2 separate regions of the Homo sapiens genome follow, and region 2 is linked to region 1. Evidence: fine-mapped expression QTL. A gene starts in region 1. The other region holds a variant in brackets. All regions are shown on one strand. Distances are from middle to middle.

Region 1 (2,917 bases):
CTCGCCCTGCTGCCAGGTCCGCTGGTGTGAAATACTTGCACCCAGCAGGTGCCCCAAACACCACCAGCTGCCCATGTCTCAAGCCCCTGACTGCAGCCATTTTCACCTCTTCCAGGTTATCTTTATCACTGATAGGAATGCTGTGGGTGCTGGACAAGGGCCTTGACTGACCTTCAAAAAGCACAAGTCCCCTGTTATGGCTAGCCACTGGGACCAGAGTATTCATGGATTTCACTGTCACCATGAAGGCAAAGGGGTCTGAGGCGGCGCCGTCTCCGTCCACCACCTCCAGCTCCAGCTGAAAGAGGCGCTCCCCATGGGAGTTCTCTGCAGGGGGCTGATAGGCAATCTTCAGCTCCCTCAGCTCCTGCTGGGTGAAGAAGGAGACTGGAAGCCCTAGAGGGTCGTCGGTGCTGACCACGTAGCCCTGTTGCCCCGGGTGCCCTGGTGGGTGAGTGGGGGCGTTCAGAATGTTGAACACCAGGTCACCAGGGTCTGACTCGACGTCCTCCGCGGCCAGTGCGTCAGGCGTCAGGGCTGTCAGCACCAGTGGATCCACCTCCATCATCATCGTGGCCATGAAGCTGGGCCTGGGCGGTGTGTTCTCGGCTCCGCCGCGGATCCTCACGAGCAGCTGGAAGTGCTCGCGGACCAGCACACCCGCGGACCCAGCGTCTTGGCCCTCAGGCCCCAGCAGCTCCACCATCATGGGCACGTAGTCACGGTTGGGCGAGGAGGTGGCTGTGTGCTGATAGCGCACCCCAGCACGGAGGAAAGCCTCACAGTCTACGCCCTTGCCCCTGGGGAGAGGGGCCCCCACCGCGTCCACCAAGCGCCCGTACTTGGGCAGGGGGCCGTCCTCGTGAGGAAGTGGGGTAAGCCGGCACCTGCGGGTGGCCGTGGCTCCAGACTTCAGGGAGGCGAAGTCCAGCACTCTCCTGTCTATGGCGCGGCTCCAGCTTCGCAGCTTCTCCACTACCAAAGGCCTGTTACGCGTCACCAGCTCCAGCTGGGAGAAGACCAAGTCCACCGCCAGCGTGAAGGGCAGCACCAGAGTGTGAGTCGGGGCGTCGTAGCGCAGCTGCAGCAGCACCCGGGCGCGTCCGGGGCTGTGGGAGCCGAAGTGAGTGTACTGGACTTGGCGGGGCCCGAAGGTGCAGGGGAAGCGGCGCGGGGAGAGCGCGCCCTTGAGCCGCGGCAGGGCGTCCAGTACCGTGACTTCGCACCGGTCCCCCGGCTGCACTCCAATCACCAGATCCCGGAGCGGGTCGAGCCAAAGGGAACGACCCAGGGGCACCCGGAGTCCAGGGTTGGCAATCAGCACGCTGGGGCCGTCGGGGCGAGTGCCGTCAAGCGCACCCCGGGCGGGCAGGTAAAGCGCCGGGTCGGGCTCGGTCCCAAGTGAGGATGCCCGTCCCTGCAGCGCGGGGCGACTCAAGAGCAGGCAGGCGAGCGCCACAAGGAGCTGCCGGGGCGTCCCAGTCGGGTGCCGAGAAGCCCCCGCCATGGCCACGGATGGCTCCTGGCGTTGGGATTCCCGGGGTGGGGTGCCCTGTGCAAAGAGGGATCTGCTGAGCGGCAGGTGCAGGCAGTGGAAGCAGTAGCTGCTGTCCAGTCGGTAGCCGACTTGCGGATCCAGCAAGAGCCAGCGGCTGCGCTTCGGCTGCTGCAGGTAACGGCAGCGGGGGAAGGGGCTCTGCCCACTTCCTGCTCAGCCCCGGTCGCAAGTCTCTCTCTGCTGGCTTCTGGGGACCCCAGATACGCGCCCAGCGCGGCGAGACTTAGCGAGGGTGCAGCGCTGTCCCCTCCGCTCCTGGGCGCTTCACCCAGCCTACCTTACACACCTTCTCGCCGGGAGCCGTGGCCGCCGCACTGCTGCCCGCGCTGCCAGACTCCGACCAGCTGTCTGGATACTCTCTTCCCCAGGTGCCACAAAGGGATTGTCCCTCAGGGTTGGGAGAGAGACGGTGACTGTACTCGGGTCAGTCCTGCGTCTGTGAGATTGAGCTCCTGTTGTCCATTCATCCAGGGATTGGTGTTTCTGAAAAGGGGGAGAGACACCATTCCTCTTCCTTACCGCTGACAGGAGTGTATCTTCTAGCCAAAAACTGAGTCTCACTTCGGACATAAAAGAAGCTGGTGGGAGCTATTTTGCAAATAGGATTTTCTAGCTGTCTGTCTGATGAAGCAGCTTATTCAGGATCTTGTAATTCGGTGCTTCCAAACAACCCTGACGTTTTTCTTCTGCTCAGGTTTTGAAAAAGAAAATCAGCACCCAAACTTACTTGAACAGCTTGTAATCTGGGTTTTTTTTTTTTTTTTTTTTTTTGTCATTGGGTCTCACATAACAAAATCAGGTGTGCGGCTCGGCTTCCTTTCGTTTTCTTAGAATGTGGTTTCCATATCTGATCAACAATGACTTGCCTGTTAGTTTATTAGACATGCTGTTTTCTAATTACTTTCTTCGTAGACAGTAGCCAGAGGGGAGGATGTCAAAGGAAACAGTAGCAGAATACTTGGATCAATTTCTGTGGCTCAATCATTTAACACCTGGAATCAGTCTCTTCATGGCTTTCAGATGAAGGTGACTATGGATGTAGTGTTAGGTACTTAACAGAATCCTATTAATTTTTTAAGTTTTAAAATAGCCAATTTAGTTACAGTGCAGAGTAATCTTTTTCTATAAATAAAGTAGTAGTAATAGTAACGTGCTTCCTTATAAAATTAATGTGAATGTGAGAGACTTTTTGATGACAGTAAAAATAGATGTCTACAAACTATATTGATAGAAATGGCTTCAAGGGGGAATAGAAATCTTTAAATGTTATCCCCATGTTATTCTTTTAGTTTTTTACCGTGTTACAAATGCCTGTTTTATTCACAGCAGCAACGGCATCAGCTGATTTTCAGGGCAAGA
Region 2 (2,917 bases), 64 kb before region 1:
CTAGTGCATGATTTTCCATCTCAGTACTACTGACATTATGGGCTAGATAATTCCTTTGTGATGGTAGCCCTGTGCATTGCAGAATGCTCAGCAACCTCCCTGGCCTTTACCTCCTAGATACCAACAGCATTCCCTCCCTGCTCCTCCTCATCCTCAATTGTGACAATCAAAACTATCTTCGGACATTGCCAAATGTCCCCTGGGGGGAAATCACCACTGATTAAGAACTACTGGTGTAGGTGAAATGAAATAATTTTACTGAATCTGATACAAATCTTCATATATCTCACATGACTGTGTTTTAGAAGAATGATAAAACATTTTAGATTTGAATTTGGCGTAGATAATCAAACACTCTCTATTGAATTCAAAAGGTAGTCTTAGCATTGCCTAAATTAATCCAAGGAAAATCATAATATAAAACTGTTTTCCATGTGAGAAAATCAGAGTTTACAAGTCATGAAGAAGAGCTATTTAGTGGGGTTTGATTTACCATCACACTTTTTTCAGACAGTATTTTGAAGTGGAAGCATCAGGTTGTCAGGTTCAGTTGGCAAGACCTGACACTGTTCACTCACACAGTAGCTCTCTGGCCTTAGGCAACTTCTCATCTGCTCCCTCATCTATAAAGTGGGGGTAAAGAGGTGCAAAGAAACATTGTGTGTGAGAGACCTCAGAAGTAGGGGAGTGCAGGACAAATATCATCTTTATAACTTAAGCTTTTATTATTAAATTCCTTTCTTCACATCATAAAACAGTAGAAAACATTGTTTTTGTTTTTTTTTTTAAACTACATAGAATAAAATTGATGTCCTAATGTTCTAAAGAAAAAAAAAGAAAGGAAAACATATAACCTCATACTGGGAAATGAGAGTAAAGAGGGACCAACATGCACCAGATGCCCATTACGAGGTAAATATTGGGCTGGGCACTGTGCAGCCTGTCCAAAAAAAAAAAAAAAAAAAAGACATGGAGAGATGGTCAAGCTGAAGGAGACAGGAATCAGTAGAAAGGCTCTGATAGGACCAGCCAGTACAAGAAAATGATTTGAGTGCACAGTAAAGTGAAGAAAAATAGAAATCTGAGGAATAGGAATGGCTTAGAAAGTGACTATTAAAGTAATAATAGAGAAAAACATCCAACTGCAGAATTTTTAACTTATCAAAATGTGAAGAGCATAATGGCATTTATGTTTTCACAATTATTTCCCATTAGGTTAAAAAATATGGGAAAAAGACATCAAGTATTTTACCTAAATACTATATTTAGGAAGATTTAATTTTGATATAACTTAATTACTAATTCTAATTTCTAATATAATCTCCTCTTTTAAAAGTGCAATAATTTGAAAAATAAACACAAAAATAAAAACAAAATAAAAAGATTATATACCACTAAATAAATTTTGAAAATGCATTTAATAAATGCTGACTCTCAAATAGGTAAAGTCATTTACCAAATGATAAAGTGGCAGCCACTGTCAAATGTTAAATGTTTATGACTTAAACTTGGAAAAAATTTTAGTTGACTAGGATATTCTATCTTGAGTGCTTAATAACTTAAAGAAAAATTAATATTATATATGCTTATGTTTTCTAATACTTCATAACATTTTCAAATAGCTTCATTGTCATAAGCATTTAGCTTCTACAGCTCACACCATAATGTAGTTTTAAAGTGTATTTGAATTCCATAAGCACCCATTCATCATGCATTTGGAAACAATACCTTTACTTAGCAATTGTCACATAGTGTCAGTTAGTATCATTGTCATTTGGAAAATGCTTCACAGTGAGAAATGTGTTACTCTGACTTGTGACTTCACATGCACAGCTCCAGTTACATGTCTACAGATGATAAATA[TA/T]ATGGTCTTTTTTTCCAATAGAACTATAAATTTAAGGAAAAGAAAGTAACTTGGAATAGAAGAATTGGCAGATTAGGTAACAGAAAAAGCCAAACTGCATGTCAGCTAGGTCTCCATTTTCTTCCTCTGGCTATCTCCCATGTTCCTGGAGCTGTTGGTAGCAATTTCAAAAATGTGTCTTATTGGTTGAAATTTGCCATATTCCCTTCCCAAATAAGGGTATTATTCCACTTGATTGTCCAGTTCCATTTCTCAGGCTTTTGCTTAATTCACTTCTATTTATTCAACTGTTCACCGGGTCTCCCTGATTGTGCCCTCTTAGTGCTTCAGGGTGCCACCACTCACATCCTGGAGCTTGGAGGGACAGGTGGCTCTCTTTTTGGAGACTGCAACATTACAGGCTCATATCCATTCTCTTCTTGAGGAACAATAGGCTATTTTGTGCAACCGTACAAAATAACCCATAGGTTTTTCAGAAAAGAGGGAAAAAACCAAAAGAACAACAAAGATATGAGATTTATGTGGTCCTTTTCCTAGTTGTATTCTCCTAAGCCGCAGAGATGCCACTCACAGACAATGCTCTTAAATCCACCTCTGCAATCTTTGGACATGTGGGGCAGGTGGTGGAGGGAGAGGTCTTTGTGCTCACATGGTTGGTGGGTGGGGAGAGAAGAAGGTGGCAGGTGTCAAGACTGCTAGCTCTAATTCTGTTCACTGAGAGGTGTTTGGTGTATTCTTTTTGGAGATGTACCCAAACTGTCTTGATGATATATTTGGCTCTCCGTTTTGGAGAATAAAAACCCAATATGTCATGCTATGTATAACAATACAAGTTTTCGTGCCCTTTTTCTCCTTCTTAAATTAGTGTTCTTCAATATAAGGACAGCGGAAACAGTGTGAAATAATAAAGACCACAAGCTTTTCTTAGATTCTTTTGCATGCCTCAACAGGGACACCACATTCTGCTTTTGACACAAAATAAAATTACCCAAAGAAGTCTCAAAGCAAGACATTAGAGAGTTTTTAAAAACGATTATATTAGCAGAAGCTTTC

Which allele goes with the higher level. Alleles are on the strand shown, and positions count from the first base shown. SD is a standard deviation of normalised expression in the study named.
For the expression in prefrontal cortex of the gene that starts at base 1,507 in region 1, allele T in region 2 goes with a lower level than allele TA (small effect, 0.30 SD a copy in ROSMAP).

Evidence for each region. PIP is the estimated chance that this variant, and not a neighbour inherited with it, causes the effect.
Region 2: its variant is the best candidate, but not a certain one, in a credible set for the expression of FREM3 in prefrontal cortex (ROSMAP, PIP 0.71).

The regions. Positions count from the first base shown.
Region 1 is chr4:143,699,169-143,702,085 of GRCh38, forward strand. FREM3 (FRAS1 related extracellular matrix 3) reads right to left here and starts at 1,507. Exons shown (of 8, transcript NM_001168235.2): 1 at 1-1,507. The coding sequence starts at 1,507. RefSeq lists an enhancer at 874-1,531.
Region 2 is chr4:143,635,388-143,638,304 of GRCh38, forward strand. The region is part of intron 2 of FREM3 (FRAS1 related extracellular matrix 3); the gene reads right to left. Among named protein-coding and RNA genes, the nearest start is that of FREM3, 64 kb to the right of the region's middle. The variant TA/T (reference allele first, on the strand shown) is at 1,864.